Homo sapiens: one gene and its partners. The protein of the gene in region 2 interacts with the protein of the main gene of each other region in a pairwise test. Each region holds a gene or a part of one and is shown on either strand. Other genes may lie near its edges.

Region 1 (7,913 bases), on a different chromosome or scaffold from region 2:
TGAAGAAATGTGTATAAAGCACCTCCTTTGGCAGCTTCTTCATCAGGGGGCCATTGACATGTGCAGCAGGTGGTGGGAGTATAAGAGACTGGTGCAAAAGTACCCACTGCCTCCACCAGAAGTCTAAGAGTTACCTATCCATGCCATTGGTGTCAACTGCACCTTCCCACTAATCCACTCAAGGTTTCATGTCCAACTCAGGCCCTTCTCGTAAGCTATAGATACACAGAACTTATGGTGACTCAACATCTTCATTTCCCATAGAGTGAAAAAAATCTCTGTAAGTATAAAGACAAAACTCATCAGTTTTCTTCTCCTCCCCTAAACTTGCAGTTTACCCTAGTATTTCATATCTCAGGGATAGACAGCACTCAGGCACCTATGGGAGTCATTTTTTATTTCTTGGTCGCTTCCTTGCTCCATCCCTGCCCTGAAACACACAACTCAATACACACACAGAAACACATATATCTAATCAGTCACTGTTGTCACCAGATCAATCAAAACAAAAACTGATTACCCCCAAATTGAAAAATTTTCAGTAGCTTTCTGATAGCTGTCAATAAAGTTCAAAGTAAACTGCTTAGCTTGGCCTACAGGGCTGCTCATGATTGACCCTGCCCTTCCTCACCAGCCTCACTGTCCACCACTCTTATGCTCTTCCTCATTTTCTTTTTTTTTGAGGCAGGGTCTCCCAGCCTGGAGTGCAGTGGTGCCATCACAGCTCACTACAGCCTCAACCTCCTGGGCTGAAGTGATTCTTCCACCTCTGCCTCCCGAGTAGCAGGGACCACAGGTGTGTGCCACCACACCCAGCTAATTTGTGTATTTTTTGTAGAGACGAGGGTTTCACCATGTTGCCCAGGCTGGTCTCAAACGCCTGAGCTCAAGTGTTCCCTCCACCTTGGCTTCCCAAAGTGGTGAGATTACAGGTGAGAGCCACTGCACCAGGCCTGCGTTTTTACCTATCCATTTTGCCTGAATGACTCTCTAGCTGGAGTAGCTTTTCTCACTTAGGTGCTTTGGTTCCTGTTGGAACCTCTGCTTAGAATGCCTTCCTTTAAATCCATCTGAAATTCCTATAGTTCTTCAAGCTTTAAGGTTCAGCCTTGTCTAGCTCCCCTAGGCAGACTAAAGTAGTTCCTATATATACTTGTACATATATACTTGGTCAATATTACCACTTGGTTGTAATTATTTTCATGTCTTTCTCTACTGACTGTTACGGAAGACAAGAAGCAGGTCTTGGTCATTGTTTTATCTCCAACACTCAGACATTCTTTAAATGTTTGTTGAACTGATACATTTGCAGGGTCCTCCTGGGCAGAAACATCACTCTGTAGGCATTTGCTTAAGTACCTTCATTATGGGAGCAGGAAGAGGCAGTTAGGGAGCATGCCTTCCTTAATATACCTGTCTCCTGCATTTCACTCATGCTTTGGGAATTGATAATATCAAGATAATTGCTTTTGAAGAGGAATCCATATATGGGAAGCAGTGGCCTGTAGAAGATCCCTTTATTTTTAGCTGTATACAAACCCCAATGTGAGGCTAGTGAGCTAGCCAAGGTGTGTGAAGAATGCTAATGCCTAGGCCCACAGCACCTAGAGCATGGCTCCAGAGTGTCCATGTGGCCTCTATAAGAAAGAAGAACAAGAGCAGGCATCCAGGTGCCACCCCTTCCTTTCCTGGCACATCTTATCTCACCACAGTGAAAGGATTCCATGGAAAAACCTTTCCAAGAGATAGGAGAGGAGCTGGAATAAAAGTTTCCTCTCTAGCCATGTAGAAGCAAGAGATGGAGTATCAGGAGGGGCAGACTATGCTGTAGCCCGGTTGCCAGGCAGCACTGTGAACCATGACTGTTTCCTAACAGTGGTATTTCTCCTCAGGAGCCAGGGAGCCATATCATAAGGCCAGCGAAATCTGCTGAGGCATGGTTTTGAGTTAGGAAGAATCATTGAGAAGGCCTTATATACCAGTCCATTTTCAACCTTAATGACTCAGGGACTGGGCAGGAAGGAGGGGTGAAAAGGAAAGGAGAATTTTGTGGAGAAATTATTGACTCTTATTTGACAGATGTAAACATCAGATCAAGTGACTTGTTCAAGGACTTAGAGCTACAAAATGTCAGAGTCAGAATTTTAATGCAGCTCTAAATCGAGTCCCTGTTTCTTTTCACTGAAGCATTCATAATATATGTTATTTTTGCAAAAAAAATAGCTTATGGAAACAAGAGACTAATCTCACCTTTTGGCTACATGACCTTAGCTCTTACATGGTATGTGCCTGAGTGACTTATGAACTAATTAGCTATTTAGCTGTTGAACCAATGATTGTTCCTTTACAGGATTGGTACAGATACATTCTTATAACAATTCTGACCCTTTATACATCTCTCATAATATCCAGGTACAAGTTTTGAGTGTTTATTTTCTTCTCTCCTGTTGAACTGAACTGAGTAGGGAAGAGGCAGAGAAAATGCGATAAGGGTATAGAATGACATAAAATCTGACTTCAGCTTAATCATTATTGAGTTCAGCCAGTTGACGAGGAATGAAGGAAAAACAATCTTTTTGGCATCTCCAAACTAATTAACTTCATAACAGCTTCCATAATTGCATTTCTATCTAATAATATTAACTTAAAGGAATGATATGTTTATGTGGCTTTAAAGCAGGGTTTTCCATCTTTGTTCTATGGGTCCCTTCAGGAGTGAAATGGAAGGACAGGGAGTAGATAGTCCGCAGGCCCTTCCACTGGCCTCTGCAACCAAAGCGGCTCTGTGGTTTTTGTTTCACCTGTTGGGGTTCTCATTAAGCTTTCTTTGAATGAAGGATTTTGTTTTATTAAATAAGTTTAATTGTTTTATTAAGTAAGTTTAAAAACCATTGCCTTTAATCGGATTCTGAGAGCTATGTTGAGAGAAGATAGTAAAATTTAATTCAACTAATATTTGAGTACTTACCATGTGCTAAGCCCTGAGGAGACTGTACTGCTACAGCTACACTGTCATTACTATTGCTTAGCAGGAAAAACAGATATTAAACAAGTAATTACAAGTGAGATGAACTTCATAAGAGGAAAAATACAGTGTTATGATGGCATAGAGCAAGGAGACTCAACCTGGTCTCTAGGGCAGTGGTTTCTAAACCTAACCAGAGTAATTCAGAGAGCATTCCTAGTCTCTACCCCTCCCTAGGACGCCTCAGAGATTTTGATCTGCCCAGATTGAAATCTCCAAGCACTGTAGGGGGTGGGGGGCAGGGGGCAACCAGGGAAGGTGTCATAGAGACATTCCTGAGAAGTTACTTAAAGGTCTAGGGTAGCCAGACTAGACGGTGAGGCGGAGGATGGGGCCGGAGCAGCCTGGGCCCTGAGGAAAGCTGTATAGAAAGGCTGAGAGTGGAGGGGAGGTAAAGTGTGTTCAGGGAATTGACCAAAGCCCAGTCTCTAGACTTGGAGGGAGAGGGTGTCTCAGTATGTACATATTTCTAATATAGCATTTATCATTCTGTTTTGTATTGACTGCACCTCCCAGCCGTCAGTCTTTAGTGACCAAAGCCATATTTTGTTTACGCATGAAGCTGTAGCATCTAGTACCTAGTAGGAACTCAAGAAATAGTTGATGATCCAGTGAACAAAGTCTCTGCATATAGGGGCTTAGTTCAGAGTAAGAAATGGAAAAGAATATTAATAATTGTGAAGTAGGATAGTAACAACTTTTTTTTGGCCAGGCATGCTGATTCCCGCCTGTAATCTCAGCACTTTGGAAGGCTGAGGTAGGAGGATTGCCCGAGACCAGCCTGGGCAAGACAGGGGGACCCCAGCTCTACAAAAAATTTAAAAATTAGCCAGGCATGGTGGTGCATGCCTGTGGTCTCAGCTATTGGGGAGGCCAAGGTGGGAGGACTGCATGAGCTTGGGAGGTTGAGGCTTCAGTGAGTGAGCTGTGTTCGTACCACTGCCCTCCGGCCTGGAGGGCTTTTTTTTTTTTTTTTAGACGTAGTTTCGCTCTTGTTGCCCAGGCTGGAGTGCAACAGCACGATCTCAGCTCACTGCAGCCTCCACTTCCTGGGTTTAAGCGATTCTCCTGCCTCAGCCTCCCTAGTAGCTGGGATTATAGGCATGTGCCATCACACCAGGCTAATTTTGTATTTTTAGTAGAGATGGGGTTTCACTATGCTGGTCAGGCTGGTTTCAAACTCCTGACCTCAGGTGATCCACCTGCCTCGGCCTCCCAAAGTGCTGGGATTACAGGCCTAAGCCACCGTGCCTGGTTTTGTTTGTTTGTTTGTTTGTTTTATTGAGATAGTCTCTCTCTGAAGCCCAGGCTGGAGTGCAATGGCACGACCTCAGCTCACTGCAACCTCCACCTCCTGGGTGCAAGCGATTCTCCTGCCTCAGCCTCCCGAGTAGCTGGGATTACAGGCGTCCGCCACCATGCCTGGCTAATTTTTGTATTTTTAGTAGAGACAGGGTTTCACCATGTTGGCCAGGCTAGTCTCGAACTCTTGACCTCAGGTGATCCACTCGCCTCGGTCTCCCAAAGTGCTAGGATTACAGGCATGAGCCACCACGCCTGGCCTCAAATGCAATTTTATGCAAAAGTCTTGATACATACCAAACCATTGTGGTTATATACATGTAGGGGTTCCTTCTCAGTTAATCTCTCTCCCCATAACATTCCAACCTGTGCCTCTACACATTTTACTTTTATTATTACCTCTTCCTATTCATATCTACCTGGGGAGTTTCTACTGTTATTTCTTTCACATTCAGTACCTGACTCCTTTTCTCTTCCATTTGCTCTAAAGTTAGATGCCCAGCCTGTCCTCCCAGCATCTGGTGCATACCTCTCTTTTGAGCTACATCAGTGGTTGCAAACCCAGTTTTGAGAAGCCTTTTCCCTAACTCAGCCATCCCACTGCAGTATCCTGACATGTTTTAGCACCAAAAGCTTGAAATGAGAGGGGTTGGGATCCAGAGTGCATATCAAAGGATTGAATTTTGAGAGCCAATAGAAGACAGAGGGTGCAGATACAGATAGGATTGTAGATTGTGATAGGCATCTGAGCAGCTCCTGCTAGCAGTCATTCATCAGGGAGATAAAAAGCTGGGTGCCATTAACTGAAAGAGAGGAGAAATTAGACTAGGTGGGAAATAATCTTGGAGTGCTAGGTGGAAAGAGTAGGCTGGAAGGCCTACTAGAGAAATGTGGGGACATTAGGTGGCATTGTATCCCAGTAGAGGTTGTTGGTAATGACTTGTAATGGCATTACTGCACCATCCTCTCTGACTTTTTTTCCTCCTTTCAGTGATGCTCAGCTGTTTGGGTATAGACAGCAAATAAGATGGTTGGGTTGGGTCAGGCACAGTTGGATTTTATTAAGGGAGTGTACAAGAGGGACTCCTAAGAGCCAAGGGTGTGGATAAAGAGGAAAATGAATATAAGTATAGGAGGGGTGAAGAAAGTTGTGGGGTCAGTGGACTGGAGGTTTTAGTGAAGCTGAAGGATCATTTCAAGAAGGAATTTCATCGGGGCTTTGGAGAGTCAGTGAATTCAGGGGACAGTCCATTCATTTAATGCAAGATAGTGGATGGAAAGTCCCAAGAGTTGGAGGATATAGAGGTGTTTCCTGTTCACCGAGCATGAGATCCAGAGAATACATTTTTTGTTAATAAAGACATTTTAACAGGTAGAGCCAAATTGCCTGTGTTGGAATCCCATCTCTGTCATTTACTAGCTGTGTGACTATATAATCTCTCCGTGTCTCGGCTTCTTCATCTGGAAAATGGGGATAAAAATAATACCTATCTAGTAATGTTGTATTAAGGGTTAAATGAGTTATTAATGTCTGTAAAAGCACTTCAATAAATACCACCATATAGGAAGTATATATAAGTACTTATTAAATAAAAATAGTGTCTTCACTATATATTTAATATATAACTCTTTTAAAGTGTTAATGCCTAGCAACTGTTTCCTTCCTCTCCCCCTCTATTTATTCCCATAATCTTATAATTAAACCTTTGCCATATGCTCATTTGCACTAGTTCTCTACACATTTTTTCATTAGGCTCGTAAGACTGTGCTAATCATTCAGAAAAGTATATTTTAAATATCTCTATTTTATGAATTTTATTTTAGCTGTTAAACGTTTAATGAAAGAAGCGGCAGAATTGAAAGATCCAACAGATCATTACCATGCGCAGCCTTTAGAGGTTAGTTTCTATCTCCATGTTCTTCATATGGATTTTAATATTTAAAACAAATTTTTTAAAATTGCTTTTCATTGCTTTGAGTCATTACAGATGTGTGTGATGTAGTTTGACGTTTTATTCACCATATTTCATGAATATTTCATTAGCCATTCCAAATCACTTTAGAAGAAACGGATTTTGTGGTCTTTATAAAATGGGTCTCAGATGCTAAGTTGAGGTTAGATCTTTTTTTTTTTTTTTTTTTTTTTGAGGCGGAGTCTCACTGTGTTGCCCAGGCTGGAGTGCAGTGATGTGATCTCGGCTCACTGCAACCTCTACCTCCCAGGTTCAAGCAATTCTCCTGCCTCAGCCTCCTGAATAGCTGGGATTACAGGCCCCCACCACCACGCCCGGCTAATTTTTGTATTTTTAGTAGAGACAGGGTTTCACCATGTTGGTCAGGCTGGTCTCAAACTCCTGACCTCGTGATCCACCCGCCTTGGCCTCCCAAAGTGCTGGGATTACAGGCGTGAGCCACTGCACCCGGCCGAGGTTAGATCTTGAGTCTGAGGGAGGGGAGGTGGAAAGAACCCCAGATACTTTACAGTTTGGAAGCCTTTTGATGGGTCTCCGTAGCTACTCAAGGCTTTTTGTATAAACATCTCGGCCTCTCTCAGTCTTCTCATTTGTAAAAGGAGGGTATTTAAATATACCCAGGCAGGTTTTCATGGTAACAGTGGGAATAAAAATATCATAACTTAAGTGCAAGTATTTTGTAAACTGAAAAGTACATGGTAACTGTAAGATGACATTAAATACATTAGTATTACCATTTTATAAATAAGCTCTTAGGCATCTATAAGGGATAATTTTTAAAGATTTGTTAAAATAACCCAAACATAGTAATTTTTTGATTATATAATTATCATAATTTGCTATTCTTTCAAGGATTAATTTCCAATTTAAACCTGTAAGTTACTTATGAATATATAACAACACTCAGAAATTTTTAATGTGTTTATTATAAAATATTTTAGCTCAATGGAACATGAAAGCTAGATTAAATAGCTTTTACTTATAAATTTAATTTATCACTTATAGTCTCGAGACATCTCATGCATTAGAAACTATACTAGCAATAATATAAAGCATTTAATTTTTCTTGCTTGGTAATATTTCTAATATTCAGATAAAATGATCAAACTTTTCAATATTATTAATTCCTTGTGGATTATTGTTTTTGTTCAGGATAACCTTTTTGAATGGCACTTCACGGTTAGAGGGCCCCCAGACTCCGATTTTGATGGAGGAGTTTATCACGGGCGGATAGTACTGCCACCAGAGTATCCCATGAAACCACCAAGCATTATTCTCCTAACGGTAAGAATTTTGGATTTTTAGAGTGCTTGTGGCTTCACTCTTCCTGGTAGCTGCAAAATATAGTAAGCAAATCATTTTCATTAAGAAATAATAGAACAGTATAATTTTGCTTTTGGGGTCCAGGCCCTGGGACTACAATTTTTTTCCTCCAAAATAATTCCTAGGAAGCTGATGCATCTGAGAAGTAAAAATGATACAACTGAATGCATAAATGTCATATCATGGTTGTTAGGATTCAATGAATTAATATATGCCAAGTGCTGGGCATACACATCTGGCACTTCATAAGTACTCACTAAAGGGTAGCTAATGTTATTGTACCTTGTAAT
Region 2 (7,913 bases):
TCCTGTCTTTCCTCCTTTCCTAGCTCATATGCTGTGGTCCAGAATCAAGATGAGTTCTTTACATATTTGACTCCCTCACCTTTGCAGGCACCTGGCAACACCAAACCCCATGCAATTGCAATGTTCTGTTGACTGAGTCCATTCCCACACAGACAACCATGCTGACCGCTCTCTTTGCATTCACAGCCGCGGACTCCAGGGAGGCCCTAGGGCTGCATCAATCCTACTCAATCTCCCCAGTCCACGCACTCTTCCACCCCCAAGTGACCAGTCACATCTTTTCTTCTTTCAAATCTCCAACACCTCCTTCCCTCTCTCCTCATTCTCAACTGAGGACCTTCCTTCCTACAACACGGAGAAGATGGGAAGACTCAGAAGAGACTCTCCATGTACTTCTGCCACACCAGCTACCACCCTACCTGTACCTACAGAGCCTGCCCTTCCTCCTGGTGCTAAGTTTGGACTTTCCACATATGTAAGGCACTAGATTCTGTCTTCTTTCTCCTTCTCCAGGACTTCACTCCGGTCACTGTCTCGTCTCTGGAGCATCACTTATGCTCTTTAGTCGATAATTTCCAACAGCATATTAACATTCTGCTACATCACCCTCCTTAGAAAAGCCTCCCTCGACTCCACATTTCCCTCTAGCTTCAGCTCATGCTCTCTCCTCCCCTAGGCAATTTCCACTATAGAGCTGTCAATACTGGCTCCAACTCCTCCCCCATTCCCTCCCGAACCCACTCTAGGGTGGTCCTGTCACACCCTTAAATGACTCAGTCAAGGCTATAAGTGACTGTTGCATGTACATGCCATGGTCAATTCCCGCTTGACATCCAGAAGCATCTGATGTGGTATTTGAAACACCCGTCCGTGGCTGGCAGGATGCCACATTCCCAGCTTACACTCCTCCTCCAGTCTCCCCTACCAATTCCCCCTGACACCCTTGGCCTCTAATGTGGGAGGCCTGGCACCCAGCCCTTTGAGCTTCCCTTCTTCTCCATCTGCCCTCACCTCCAGGGTGATTTCATCCAGTCCCACAGCTCTATACACATGCTGATGATGCCAACATCTGCATCTCCAGGCAAGTCCTCTCCCTGAACTCCAGGCTTGAATGGAAAACTTACTTGACACCTTGGGTGTCTAGAAGGACACCCAGATGCTATTGGTCTGAACACGTCAAAAGCCGAATACCAGCTGTACGATCCCATTTCCGAACATCTAAACCTGCCCTGAGTCTCCCTCATCTTGCTAAATGGCAACTCTATCCTTTTTTTTTTTTTTAATGGAGATGGAATCTCACTCTGTCGCTCAGGCTGGAGTGAAATGGCACAATCTCGGCTCCCTGCAACCTCCGCCTCCTGGGTTCAAGCAATTCTCCTACCTCAGCCTCCCGAGTAGCTGGGACTACAGGCGCACGCCGCTACGCCCGGCTGATTTTTTGCATTTTTTAGTAGAGACAAGGTTTCATCATGTTGCCCAGGCTGGTCTCAAACTCCTCAGCTCAGGCAATCCACCTGCCTTGGCCTCCCAAAGTGCTAGGATTACAGGCAACTCCATCCTTCTTACTACTCAGGTACAAAACTTTGGAGGCATCCTTGACTCCTTTTTCCTTTATCCCTCATGCCCATCAGGAACTCTTCTCAGCTCTACCTTCAAAATACATCCAGAAGCCAGTCACTTCCCACCACTTCCACTGCCACTCTGGGCCGTGCCCCACCATCTTTTGCCTGGATTGATCACTGCAACTGCCTCCTAATGGGCCTCTCTGATTCTGTCCTTTCCCCTGCCCAGTCTTGTCCACAGAGCAGCTGGAGAGCTTTTAAGTCAGATCATGCCTCACCTTCTTCAGGGCCCTACAATGGCTTCTCATCTCATGCAGAGTAACGGCCCGAGTCCCTACAATGCCCCTGCAAGCCCTGCATGATATGGCCCTGTGACCTCTCTTTATTTATTATTATTTTTTGAAATGGAGTCTCACTCTGTTACCCAGGCTGGAGTACAATGGCGCAATTTCAGCTCACTGCAACCTCCACCTCCCAGGTTCAAGAGATTCTCGTGCCTCAGCCTCCCGAGTAGCTGGGATTACAGGCGTGTGCCACCACACCCAGCTAATTTTTGTATTTTTGGTAGAGACAGGGTTTCACCATGTTGGCCAGGCTGGTCTTGAACTCCTGACCTCAGGTGATCCACCCGCCTCGGCCTCCCAAAGTGCTGGGATTACAGGTATGAGCTACTGCACCCGGCCTCTCTCACTTCATTTCTAAGCATGCTCCTCTGCTCCAGCCACCCTAACCTTCTTACTGTATCTTGAACTTGCCAAGCACATTCTAGCCTTAGGAATTTGCATTTGCTGTTCTCTCTGCTTGTAACACTTCCTCCCCAGACATCCACATGGCTGGCTCCCTCACTGTCTTCAGGTCTTTGCTAAAATATTACCTCATCAAAGAGTTTTTCCCTGACCTCCATATTTAAAATAGGACCCTCACTGCCCTACCCTAGCCCCTCCCCATTACCATCTTTATCCTGCCTTGTTTTGGTCCATATGACTTAACAGCATCTGATATACCATATACAGATGCTCCCTGACCTACACTGGGGTTACGTCCCAATAAACCCATTGCAAGTTGAAAATATTGTAAGTCGGCCAGGTGCGGTGGCTCATGCCTGTAATCCTAGCACTTTGGGAGGCCGAGGCGGGCAGATCACTTGAGGTCAGGAGTTCAAGACCAGCCTGGCCAACATAATGAAACCCCATCTCTACTAAAAATACAAAACTTAGCTGGGCGTGGTGGCACGCACCTGTACACCCAGCTACTCAAGAGGCTGAGGTAGGAGAATCACTTGAATCCAGGAGGTGGAGGTTGCAGTGAGTCAAGATCATGCCACTGCACTCCAGCCTGGGCGACAGAGTGAGACTCTGTCTCAAAAAAGAAAAAGAAAATATCGTTAAGTGAAAAATGCATGTAATACCCATCATGAAGTTAAAAATTGCAAGCTGAACCATTGTTAATTGGGGACTATTTATATTTTATATACTTATTGTCTATTTCTTTACTAGAATGTTCTGAGGGCACAGATTGTTCACTACTGTACCCTTAGCAACTAGACTAGTAGGTGATTACTAAATATTTTGTGAATGCATGAATGAACAAATGAATGAGAATAAATCTCATTTGTTCACCCCAACAGCCCTGTGAGTGGGTACTATTATCATCATCCCCATTTTACAGAAGAAGCAACTAAATAGGGCCCAAATATGACATAGCCCAGGTGTGGCAGAACCTGTGCTCCAACCTAGCTCTGCTTCTCCCAAAGCCTCATGCACAGGTCATCATCGGACACGGGGGGCTACCATTTCAACAAGTACCTACCACAAGCCAGGCTCCGTGCTATCATCTTTAACCTGCACACACACCCTGTGAGATAAGTGCCCTCACAACATTTTATAAAGTAGAAAACAGGAGTCAAAAAGATTAAGAAACCTTCTCAAAGTCACACAGCCAGTAAGGTCTGAAACTGGTATCTGAATGCAGGCAGTCTGGCTCCTCGGCCTGTGCTCTTAGCCACTGTGCCAAACTGCTGCCCTGAGATGAAGGCCTGCTCTGGCCAAATGGTTGCCCAAGACAAATGAGCAGCAGGCAGAAGAGGACCACTCAAGCTCACCAAGAAGGTGGCCAGCATCTAAATCTCCCCAGCTAGTGCAGATCACTCACCGTGCACATGGGACTGCTGGAAGCTCTTCCCAGGGGCAAAGTGGAAGTTTCCGGCCACCTGTAAGGAACATTCTCTCTCATTCACTGGCTGTGTCCTCCTTTTGCCTACTCAGGGCCTGACTGGGCCCTCGGTTCCCAGTGGAGCTTGCCCAGCCCAGCTGGCCCTATCTTGTCTTGATCCCTCCTGATACCTTATTGACTTCCAAGAAGCCATACACCTGGCAGCCTTCATTCTTCTGCTCCTGCATCTTCTGGCTGAAGCCCTCTCGCCGGCACTGCTCAATAGTATCTGGGTTCTTGAAGGCCCAGCCTCTACGGCGATATGCCTCCCGCACATCTTCACAGGTGTTACAGCACCTGTAGGGCAGGGAGTGACGGTGAGAGTGTTAAAGAGGCATAAGTCCAGTGCTGGCATCTGGGGAAATAGAGCCCGAGCAGCTCTGCCTGCTAATGAAGGCTCTGCTAGCCTCATCCCTGACCACCAAACATTCTCCAAATGTGTTTCCTCAGTGGCAGAAGGACTGTTTTCTTTTTTTAATTTTTAAAATTTTTTTAGAGATAGGGTCTTGCTATGTTGCCCAGGCTGGTCTCAAACTCCTGAGCTCAAGTGATTCACCTACCTCGGCCTCCCAAAGTGCTACGGATTACAGGTGTAAGCCATTGTGCCCAGACTAGGACTGTGAAAAATACATATTCCCATTCTGTTTGAGGCGATGACAAGTTTTAGGACAGAGAGTGGTGACTGCATGACACTGTGAAGATACCTAATGCCACTGAGTTGCACACTTAAAAATAGTTAAAATGGTAAATTTTATGTCACATATTTTCCCACAATAAAAAAAAATTTAAGTACACATTCCCAGGCCCCACTCCAGACCTGCTGAATCAGTCTTGCAGAAGTCAGGGTCTGGGAAACAGCAGCAGTTATCAGATACTGAGGGTCTAATAATCTGGGCTGGGCCTTCCACCTCAGTGCTTTACACACAGTATACAGCTAATCCATATGTGACTCTTACGAGAAGATGTTATTATCATCCCTCTTCACATAGAGAGGTTACATGGCTTGGCCCAAGGAAACGGGTAGAACCCAGGTAACTGGACTCCAGAGACCACCTCTGAACCATTTCTCTAGGTGGAAGAGCAGAGACCACTTCAGCTTCATCTCTAGGTCTGCAGCTCCCAGATAGGGCCTGGTTACAAAGCCTCAGTCGCTTGCACCAGGATCAATGACAGAGGCACATACCCCGCCCACTCTAGATTCTTGGTCTGACCTCCCCACCTGCCACAGTCTGACTGAGGCTGAGGCTGACTGACAGATGGCGCCTGATGGGAACCCTGCTCCCGCTCCCCGCCAGCTCACTTGATATCTTCTGCCTCAGCACCATAGCAGCTCTCACAGCGATCAGGGTCCAGGGAGTCAGGGTCAAACACCGTCACCTCGACTTTCCCAAGCTCTAAGGGGAGGGGAGAAGCAGAGGCATCAGCTGGGGCCAGACACAGTGAAATCGGTGGCTCCAGTCTGCACAAGCCCTTTGCTTAGGGATAATAAAAGTTATAATAACTAATATTCATATAGTACATGCTACGGGTCAGGCATTAAGCACTTCTACACACATATCAATTCTTTTAATAAAAGAAACAGTAAGAAAACAGTCAACAGTAAATACTGAACATTAGCTGTGTACAGATCACTGTACTTCACAACCATCATCTCATTTCATCCCCACAATGACTCTTTGAGGGTGGCGGTAATTATCCCTGTTTTACTGAGAAGATGTTGAGGCTCACTGATGAGAAGTGACTTTGCCCAATGCAACCGAGGAAACAGATTTCAGCTAATTCCAACGTGTATGCCACTAACCTCTTGCCATGGTGCTTCTCCTCACACCTCTCCCTCTGCACCGGCTCCTTGCCTCACTCTAATCACCCCATCATAACTGGTGATTTCAATAATGAATACTGACCTCCCGACTCATGATAATCTTTTGATTTTGCCATCTCACCTCAGCTACCCATTTTCATACTCATACCTAGATCCTGTCACTGCCAATAACTGCAAATCTTCCAAAATTCAACTTCAAGTGTCTGAGTCTTCAACTACTTACCCTTATTTTCCAAGTTCACTATTTAGTACCCGAAATCCACCAATTCTTTGACACTGCTGACACTATCACGTCCTCACTTCCCTCCTGAAATCCCATGGTCCACTGTAATTATTCTCTTGCACATAACCACAACTCCCTGTTCCTCTCGTCTTTCATTTACAAATCCAGCAAAACCCACACCCTGGTTCCATTCAACTCTCTGTACCTACTTCTTTCCTGAAGCTCCTTTAGGACTGCCTGGCAATTCCACTTCATTTCTCTAATCAGTTCACTCTCCCACTCTCTAAGGTGACTTAGACCTTCTCCTCTCTCCTTAGGCTCCCAAAACCCCCTCCTATTTCTTCACTTAGCTAATGTCCTTGCTTTCAATTTCCACTAAGAAAAGAGAAGCAACAGAACTTCACTTGCTCTCACCACCAAACCCACCATCTCACCACTTTCTCCTTCAGATCCCACTCCATTTCTCAGCTCTCCCTTACAGTGAAACTCCCAAGTCACCTATAGGTAATGTCTCCACTTCCTTTTTTGCTCTTTGATCCGATTTTCATCCTCAACAGTATCAAAATTGTTCCTTTCAAAGTCTCCAGGAATCTCTTTGTTGCTAATTTCAATGGTCAATTCTCACTCCTCATTTTACTGGACTATCAGTAGCTTCTGATACAACTGCTCACTCTCTCTTCTTGAAACTCTCTCCACTTGGCTTTTGGGACACCTCTTGGTTCTTCTACGTCAATGGCTAATCCGTCCCAATCTTCCTTCCTGTCCTGACTTTTAAATATTGGAGATACCCAGGGTACAGGCCGTAGACCTATCCTCTACCTACATTGACTCCCCAGGTTTTCTTAGTCCAGTTGTTTAAACTACCCTGTACCTGCTGATAACTCCTCTAAATTCTAGACTGGTACATCTAATTGCCTCTTAATATCACCAGAGTATAAAATAGGAACCCCAAATTTAACATACCCCAAACCTGAGATTCCTCTTTCCTGCAAATCCTGACCTTACTCTGTGGAAGCTAGTTTCCAAGATGTCCTCAATGATCCCCACTTCCTAGTATTCACACCCTTATGTAGTCCTCTCCCACAATGAGTAAGGCTGACCTGTGTAAGCACTAGTATATTGCAGAAATGATGGTGTACAACTTCTGAGGCTGGGTCATAAAAAAGGTTACACGTTTTTTTGTTGTTGTTGTTGAGACAGAGTTTCACTCTTGTTGCCTAAGCTGGAGTGCAGTGGCGTGATCTCGGCTCACTGCAACCTCTGCCTCTCTGGTTCAAGTGATTCTCCTGCCTCAGCCTCCTGAGTAGCTAGGATTACAGGTGCCCACCACCACACCCGGCTAATTTTTTTTTTTTTGTATTTTTTAGTAGAGATGGGGTTTTACCATGTTGGCCAGGCTGGTCTTGAACTCCTGACTTCAGGTGATCCAACTGCCTCAGCCTCCAAAAGTGCTGGGACTACAGGCGTGAGCCACCATGCCTGGCCAAAGGTTATGGTTTCTACTTTGTTCTCTCAGCTCACTTGCAAGATCCAAGTGGGGGAAGCCAGTTGCCGTGATACAAGGACACACAAGCAACCCTACTGAGAGGCCCATGTGGTGAGGCACTGAGGCATCCTGCCAACAGCCCTATGAGTGAGCCCTTTAAAAGCAGATCCCCTGCTGGGCGTGGTGGCCCATGCCTGTAATCCCAACACTTTGGGAGGCCAAGGCGGGTGGATCACCTGAGGTCAGGAGTTTGAGACCAGCCTGGCCACGATGGTGAAACCCTGTCTCTACCAAAAATACAAAAAGTAGCCGGGTGTGGGGGCAGGCGCCTGTAACCCCAGCTACTCAGAAGGCTGAGGCAGGTGAATCACTTGAAGCCGGGAGGCAGAGGTTGCAGTGAGCTGAAATCGCACCATTGCACTCCAGCCTGGGTGACAGAGCGTGACTCAAAAAAAAAAAAAAAAAAAAAGTAGATCCCCGCGTGGCACCAGCCCTTCTGCCACAGCTGCCATTGGAGAGCAGCAGCCATGGCTCTGTGCTACCCACTATGGCCGTGTGCCTTGACAAGGGCCACAAGATGACCAAGAACATGAGCAAGCCCAGGCACAG
Region 3 (8,703 bases), on a different chromosome or scaffold from region 2:
ATGGTCTCGATCTCTTGACCTCGTGATCCACCCGCCTCAACCTCCCAAAGTGCTGGGATTACAGGCATGAGCCACCGTGCCCGGCCTGTTTTTTCTTTTTAAGGCAGCATATCAACCTGGCACCTAGGCCAGAGTGCAGTGGCACAATCACAGTTTATTGCAGCCTCGAAATCCTGGGCTCAAGCAATCCTCCCATCTCAGCCTCTTGAGTAGCTGGGATTATAGGTGTGGACCACTACATCCAGCTATTTTTTTTTCTTTTTTTTTGGAAACATGGAGTCTCACTATGTTGCCCAAGCCGGTCGAACTTCTGGCCTCAAGCAATCTTCCTACCTTGGCCTCTCAAAGTGCTAGGGCTACAGGTGGGAGCCACCACACATGGCCCAGCAATAAAGTATTTTTAAATTAAAGCATATACATCGTTCTTTTACACTGCTATTACACACTTATACCACAGCACAGTGTAAACATAACTTTTATATGCACTAGGAAGCCAAAAAATTTGTGTAACTCGTTTTGGTGGTCTAGAACCAAAGAATACTTTTGGAACTGCATTGTTCTACAACCAATTCTGAAATATCTCTGAGGTATGCCTGTATTTGGCCAATCTCCCTATATATAACCCATCTCCTGTCACCACAACCACATCCCAGCATTAATACCTGCCTCACCTCATTCAGGTTCTGACATCTTGCTCTGAGTTACCACTTGCCTCACTGCCTCATACCATCCTTCTTCCAGATGTCCTCCTCCCTCTGCTCAGGTACCAATATCCTATACTAGGCTGTTGCCACTGTTGCTCCCCAAACAGATGTGCTCACCCTCCTCCCCTGCAACCCACTGAGGATCTAACACCCCTCTCTTGGTATACGAATGCCCTCCTCACTCTTTTGTGCTCCAACACTTCAGGCTACGCAGTCACCACTGCTCCCTCTGCCACGCCACTTCCCAAAATGCATGCCCTTCTCATTCTGCCTGGGATCCAACACCCTGCACCAGACCAAGCCTTTAAAATACCACAACTGGCTCAGTTCCATCAGCCCATGCAAGATCTGTATCAGTGAAAAAGTGCAGGCATCTGGACATCCTGAGTTCTAAATAAATAAAAATTGTGAAGAATCAGATAAAATGAAGGGAACAGAAATTGGGTGATGACAAAGATATGCTTTGTCTATTTTGAATTTTTACCTTATACGAGATACAGGTTTTTAAAAAGGAGCAGAATTGTTTTCTCCCTTCCTATTCATGACTCCAAATTTACCCTAGTATTATTAGGTCACTACATTCTTATCACTTAAATACTAATTTCTATGAGGAAATCCATTTCAAGTTGTAAACTAGTGACAATATTTTTTAAAAACTATACCCAATTATGTAACTTTCATTAAACCTTTTACCTAAGAGAATTCAAAGTACTTCAAAATCTGTTTATAAGTGGCAGATTATTTCCACTAAGTAGGGTAAGATAGCCACAAAGAAAGTAATTTTGGACAATATTAAAAATGAATTCTGAAAAGGACATACTTACAGAAACATGATACTTCATGTAATAATGAATAATCCAGACAGGTACAAGTACATGAGTGAAAACAAAGATACTCTTTTTGTATACCCCATGGACCTGGGGGGAAAAACACATACACAAAATAAACATATCCCATTTTTTATATTTATGGCAGAACAAAAGGCATCAATGATGTAACAATGCCATGACTATTTTACAAAACTCTAAATGGCACATATTTTCTTATAGTCTGTAGGTAACCTCATCTACTCAAATATTCTTAGTAAATGCAGAGTCTGCTAGAAGATACCTACAAAGTCCAGACCAAAATGCTTAAGCAGTATTTTGCAAGACTATAACAAGGCATTTATAGATTTTTTAAAGACTTCCAAAAATATCCTTATTATAAGTTTGTTAAAGATAAAATATAGCAAAATAATGAAAGAATAATTTTAATGTATTTAACCAGAGTAATCAAACCTACAGAATTTTTCAGGTATAGTCATCTCCCTTATTTATTGATCAATGACACTCACATCATTTTAGGTATAAGGCAGACAACCTTGACAACGCCAATGCTGGAAAAAGGACGTTTTACATACTAAGATGGGGTGTCCCAAACTCACTCCAAAATGCCCTCTGCAACACTATTTTAAAAAAGAACTAAAAATGGAACTTTCCCATGTCTTCCAACTTGATTAAAAAACACCTATCCATTCAAGGAAGGGACAATCCAGAATCTAAGAATTATAACAGATATGATTATAAAAGAATAAATTAAAGTAAGGTAAGGTGAACTTCGACACATTATTATTTATTTACTTCCTTATATCACTTGCTGATGGATGGGATGTCAACTTTAAATCAGTGACTGCCAATATTCCGATAATGTCAGGGATACAAAGGGTGGGAGAAGAGTTGAATTTTACCACCATAAATAAGTATCCAATATCACTTTCTCAGAAAAATTTTCAACAATTCTATTGCACTAGACTTTGTAGCACAGTAAGAATCAGATACATGTTGATTACAATATGAACTCATATTCAATTCCTAGCTCCCTGACCACCAGCAAATCACTGAAGCTTTGTAGGCCTCAGTTTCTTCACATTTAAAATGAGGATTAGGAATATCTACCTTACAGGAATAAAGAAATGAAGTAACACATGTAAAACCCCCAGTAGAGTGCCAAGCACACAGCAAGCACCCGTGTGTTACGTAGTATTGTTACTACTATTATCCTGTCATCAGTAAGTGTTGCAGGTAACTGAAAGCAATTCTGAGATGTTTATCATCCATAACAGTCCTCAAGAAAATACCCAGAGGCCTTGAAAATAAAGTTCTTGAATGAGTGATTTTCTTCAAAGCCCAAAATGCGATTTTTTTAATGAAACACTGTGTTAAAAGTACAGAACGGTAGTTTAGAAAGGTAGCTCTTGAATGTGACTCACAAGGCATACCAACAGGACCCTGTCTTTTACGGGGATCACATGGGGCTGTACTATCAGCTAGGGGCTGGCTGTGCCCTCTGGTGGTTGGATACTGTGTTACTTGGTCTCTAGAACCTCACACTTAAAAGTCAGACAAGTGTCCTCAAATACTTAAATCACAGAATTTTAATTCTAGCGAGTCCTTGGTTATTATTCTGAGGGAAGATTTCTACAGTCAAAAGAGAACCAAACGTGCAGCGTCCTGGAAAACCTAAGTATTAAAATTCGCCCCCGTCCACTGTACTTGACAGTAAAAGGCATGATTCTCTCAAAGCCATACATATTCCTGGACTCCTGCCTCCCGAGACTCCAGGAGGACTCTCGGGACTGGCCAGTGTCCCAGAGCACTGAGCGTTATCAGTCCTTGGTGTGGCTGCAGGGAGCGGACGTTCAGTGTTCAGGCTGCCGGCAGCAGTGGGATGTGTTGGGGGGGACCGGAGAGGTCTGTCACTCACCATTTTCCTCCAAGGGGATTTATTCTCCAAAAATTTATTCCAGAATTTCTCCATAGGCCCCATCTTCTGTGGGGGCAGCACCGGCTCCCGAGGGCTCAGCTCCTGGTCCTTCAGCCATCGCCTTCTCAGCTCTCGCAGCTGCTGCAGCCGCAGTTTCTCATCCGGAGTGTACCCCGTCATGTCGCCGCTGGTACCAACGCAAAAGGACACGGCGCACCCTCGAACTACGGACTAGTTACTTAAGCGCGCTCCCGCTCTGCAAAGCGACCTTGCGGGAACGCCGAGCGCCGCGCGCGGTTATTACGTCACATCCTGGTTCCGCCTCTGCAAGGGCCCCAGATTCCTCGCGAGGAAAGCAGTGTGTGGGCATGCACAAAGGTCTCCACCTCCAGTTCTCTCTACGCCCACCTCCGCTATACCCGACCAAATTAGGACCGGGTGGGGACAAGGAGTACTCGTAGTTGTGGGGCCTGAGGAAAGTGACAGATTAGACGAAAGTATGCTAAATTAGAGGACTGGAGGTTTTGCTAAGGAAGAACTTGTATGCTGGGAGGAGGAAGGATAAGCATAAATGTTTCAGTGAATATGCTGGCCAGATTCAAAATTATTTGCTTGCCTCTCCCACCTTGGAATGACCTAGAGAGTGTATGAAAATAGTTACATCCCAGTTCAAATCCCAGCTATGCCAGTAACTGCTGAAGTGCCCTGGGCAGCTGTCTCATCTGTCCCTCCATCTGTACAGGAATAGTGAAAAGAGTAGCTTAATATCTAGCAAAATTGCATAGATGAATTCATGCTTTCACCCAAAAATACGTGTGGTGAAAATATGAAAGAGCATGCACGACTATTCAGCACGATTCATAATACCAAAATATTGGAAATTACCCCCAAATTCCTAAATAAAGGACTGCTTGAATAAATTGTAGTACAACAGTCAAAAGACAGCATTACAACGAATTAGTTTAAAAATCTTAATTGACTCTTATTCGTGATTCTAGAATCAAAAAACACCTCATTCTATAAAGTAGAATGAGTGTTCTGATCAGCTGAGCAGAGGCGGTTGGTTTTATTGGCAAATAGGGGCTGAAGAAAGCAGAAACCGAACAAAAAGTGGACTCATCGTTTCAAAGTTACTTTTAGGGTTAAAGCAGAAGAAACTTCCTTGTTTCACTGACTCAGACTTAAGGGAATTTCCTATTTTTTGGGAAACTGGCCCATTTCAAAGTTCAGTTTGATTGTGTGGTACTTAGCACAAACGACTCCATTCTGGTTTGGTCTGGTCTGCTGGGGCCTAGTGCGTGAAGCTAGTCCAAAACAGTGGCTTCCCAAAAACTTTCACACAACAAAGCAATGAAATGCTAATACAATCGTCAAAAGTAATAAGGAAGAACTCTATATACATCTGTGGTGTGATCTCCAGAATACATTACAAAGTGGAAAAAAAATGGATAGGAATTTGTACAGTATGCTTTTACCCAAAAAGAGAAAGATGGTGGTAATTTCAATATATATACATATTTTCTTAAATTTTCAAAATAATGGGAATGAAAACAATTGAGGTTTTTAAAGATGCTACCTATGGTGGAGGAAATAAATAGGATAGAGGAGACAGGGATAGAATCTAGACATCTCTGGAAACATCTTACTTCATAAATTTGACTTTAGAACCAAGTAAATATTTCATATTGTGAAATTAAATTTAGCTTAAAGATGTCTCCGTATTTTGAGTCCTTATATAATGAACTGCAACCCAACTTAGTATGCAATTTAACTCACAGCCTAACTTAGGAATATACTTCTGTAACAAATAACTGAGTCTCAGCCAATCATCACAGGTGGTCAACTGATCAGCCCATGTTCAAATAAGGCAAAGGCCAACCTGTAGCCAATCAAGCTGTTTCTGTATCTCATTTCTGTTTTTTTTCTATGCGTGCTGCCTGGCCTCTTTGTGGAACGATACTTTCTGAACCTCCTCTGGTTCTGAGGGCTGCCTGATTCTCAAATTGGTCATTGCTCAATTAATTTCTGCTAAATTTAATTTTTCTAAAGTTTTAATTTTAACAATATCATTACAAAACAAAATTAAATTTACAAAAAGCAGTCCATAAAAATCAAGTAAAAACCAGTAGCTCTTAATTGGTCCACTTGGTGGCATAATCTCAAAGGTACACATCATTCTAAATACAATAGCCCTTGTAACAACGCTAGGGTTAGTAGTGCCAATCCCCTCCACTTGGCACAATCAAACATCCACATATAACTTTGGACTCTCCAAAAACTTAATAGCCTACTCTTGACCAGAAGTTTTACTGATAACATACAGTCAATTAACACACATTTTGTATATGTATTATATGCTATATTATTACAATAAAGTAAGCCAGAGAAAATAAACTGTTATTAAGAAAATCATAAGGAGGCAAAGAGAGGGGTTGGTCTTGCTGTCTTGGGGTGCCAGAGGCAGAAGAAAATCCACGTATGATGGACCCTCGAAGTTCAACCTGTTTTTTTCAAGGATCAACTATAACTTTAAACCATTGAATTATTGTAAATCCACTGAGAGACAACCCGCAAAAACAAACAAAAAAAAAACAACTTAAAAAAAATCTTGGCCAGGCGTGGTGGCTCACGCCTGTAATCCCAGCACTTTGGGAGGCCAAGGCGGGTGGATCACAAGGTCAGGAGATCGAGACCTTCCTAGCTAACACAGTGAAACCCCGTCTCTACTAAAAATACAAAAATTAGCCAGGTGTGGTGGCAGGCGCCTGTAGTCCTAGCTACTCGGGAGGCTGAGGCAGGAGAATGGCATGAACCTGGGAGGCGGAGCTTGCAGTGAGCCGAGATCGCGCCACTGCACTCCAGCCTGGGTGACAGAGAGAGGCTCCGTCTCAAAAAAAAAAAAAAAAAATCTTAAACTGTTTTAAATAATCATATTGAGGATAGTGGTGTTGATCATGGTATTGTTAATCTGACACTGAAAATAACTGTTTACGTGAGTGTTGTAAAAACTGATCTTTTTTGGTATGGGGAGACATGTATATAAATTGTATGTGTTTAAGTAAAAATCCTATAGTCAAATTGTGAACAGGAAGAATCAGTATGAACTCATATTGTATTTTATCTTTAAAAATGTATATAATTTTGTCTTAGCTCTACCTGTTGATAATGGCCTAAAAGAAATTGGCAAACCAATAATCATGAGCATCTTTTGTTCTTAGGTTGTGATCTCTCATGTACATTTTCCACTGAAAGGAACTAGGACTGCTTGAAGCAGCAGTTCTCAAAAGTTTTGCTTCCAAGACTTCTTCAAATTCTTAAAAATTGTTGGAGATCCCAAAGAGCTTTTGTTTATGTGGGTTAATCTATTGATGTTTACTGCATTAGAAATTAAACATTTTAAAGTAACAATGTACTCATTAAAAAATTAGTGAGAAGAGTGCCATTGTTTTACATTTTTGTAAATGTCTTTAATGTCTTGCTTCATAAATGACAGCAGAATTGTTATAACTGCTTCTGCATTCAATCATAATGTAACACATCGTATAGCCTCTGAAAATCCCCATGTATATTTGTGAGAGAATGAGACTTTATAAGGGTAAAATAAAAAGGGCAAACAGTCAGTCATCTGTATCTGTGGGTTCCACAATTACATATTCAGCCAACCACAGATAGAAACTATTCAGGAAAAAAAACAATAAAAAGTAATATGAATTTTAAACAATACAGCCTAACAACTATTGACAGAGTATTGACATTGTATTAGGTATTATAAGTAATTGTAACTGAAACACAGGTTTAGTCACTCAACACTTGCAGAGTCCAGTTAACAAGAGCGAGGTCTGGTATAAAGAAAGTGACTTTGTATTCCAAAGCTAGCTTAGGGGAAGAAGTATGGGCTTCCAGCCTCAAAGGTACTGCTCCACTTTTGGAGCAGAAAGTGGGTACTTTCGAAAGGCAGGGGAGACAGCAAGTGGGTAGGAAGTCCACATGCTAGCTTGGCACCTTATCTACTAGGCAGTCAAGTTGGCATCTTCATGGGCAGAAATAAGTTATTAAAATGGCCAAAAACTTTCCCGGTGGGAAAGAGTTTCTCATCATGTATACTTTGGGTTGTAAATCGACTGTTACCTCTTGAGGCAATCTCCTGGTGGGTGAGAGTTTGTTCTGGAGCTTCTGAGTACAAAGTTAGATGAACTTGCCCTGTAGGGAGTGTCTGGTGAAGGGGAGGTAAAGGTTATAATTGCATTTCAAACGGGCTAGTAGGAAGTGGAGAATAGCAAGAAACAGAAGAGAAAAGAAGAAAACTAATAAAAAAAATAACTCATTCTCTTTTTCTTAGAAAAATGGGGATACTCAGTTACATAACCTAGAGATGATTTAAAGTATATGTGAGGATGTGCATAGGTTATATGCAAATACTACCCCATTTTATATGAGGGTGCTAAACCAAACTAAAATCTGGCCCGAGAAAGTCTCCATACTTGCATACTGGAGTTCTTACTTAGGAATTGCAACCTAACTTAATAGATAAGCAAACTGAAAAATCTAATGGAGACATACTTCTGTAACAATAGCTGCATCTCAGTCAATCACTGCAGCCATACTTCAGCCACTCACAGGTGGCCAACTGTCCAAACCAGGTCTAAATAAGGCAAACGCCAAGCTGTAACCAATCTGGCTGTTTCTGTACCTCACTTCTGTTGTGTTTTTTTTTTTTTTTGTATTTCAGTTTCCTTTTTCTATTCTTAAAATCTCTCCAACTGTGCAGAAATAACTCTCTGAATTTGCTGTGATTCTGAGGGCCCAATTTGCGAATTGCTTTTTCCTTGATCAATTAAACTTTGTTAAATTTAATTTGTCTACAGTTTTTCTTTTATCAAGGGAGATGAGCATCTGTGGATTTGGGTATCTGAGAGGGGTCCTGGGACCCTCAGTATCCTTGGGGACATGGATACTGAGTGATAACTCTTACTATGAAAATAATCTTGACATCACGGACCCCATAAAAGGATCACAGGGACTCTTAAGAGGACCTGGGCCAAACTTTGAGAACCTCTGCCTTGGAAAAATGGCTAACCCCAGGCCTGGGTCGGATTAGGAAACGTAAAGAAAGCCTGGAACATCTTATCATGTCGGAAAGCAGGGAAGTTTTAAAGGCCAGTAGGGTTATGTCAAAAGGATTTGGGAGCCAACTTAAATAGGTTCCCACTGGTTAAAGATGGGAAAATTTGAGCATCGACAAGTATAATAACTT

Evidence for each region.
Region 1: the proteins of ERGIC3 (region 2) and UBE2J1 interact in binary tests that used the Homo sapiens proteins (3 or more experiments, as listed by UniProt).
Region 3: the proteins of ERGIC3 (region 2) and NDUFB6 interact in binary tests that used the Homo sapiens proteins (3 or more experiments, as listed by UniProt).

Annotation. Positions count from the first base shown.
Region 1 is NC_000006.12:89,341,995-89,349,907, reverse strand, and holds part of UBE2J1 (ubiquitin-conjugating enzyme E2 J1), read left to right. Parts: intron 1-6,151; coding exon 6,152-6,225; intron 6,226-7,452; coding exon 7,453-7,584; intron 7,585-7,913. UniProt on the Homo sapiens protein: Catalyzes the covalent attachment of ubiquitin to other proteins. Functions in the selective degradation of misfolded membrane proteins from the endoplasmic reticulum (ERAD) and is essential for cells to recover from ER stress.
Region 2 is NC_000020.11:35,544,666-35,552,578, reverse strand, and holds part of ERGIC3 (endoplasmic reticulum-Golgi intermediate compartment protein 3), read right to left. Parts: exon of another isoform or gene 7,797-7,913; intron 5,168-7,796; coding exon 5,074-5,167; intron 4,071-5,073; coding exon 3,905-4,070; intron 3,772-3,904; coding exon 3,714-3,771; intron 1-3,713. UniProt on the Homo sapiens protein: Possible role in transport between endoplasmic reticulum and Golgi. Positively regulates trafficking of the secretory proteins SERPINA1/alpha1-antitrypsin and HP/haptoglobin.
Region 3 is NC_000009.12:32,569,432-32,578,134, forward strand, and holds the start of NDUFB6 (NADH dehydrogenase [ubiquinone] 1 beta subcomplex subunit 6), read right to left. Parts: upstream 3,729-8,703; 5' UTR 3,630-3,728; coding exon 3,450-3,629; intron 1,622-3,449; coding exon 1,529-1,621; intron 1-1,528.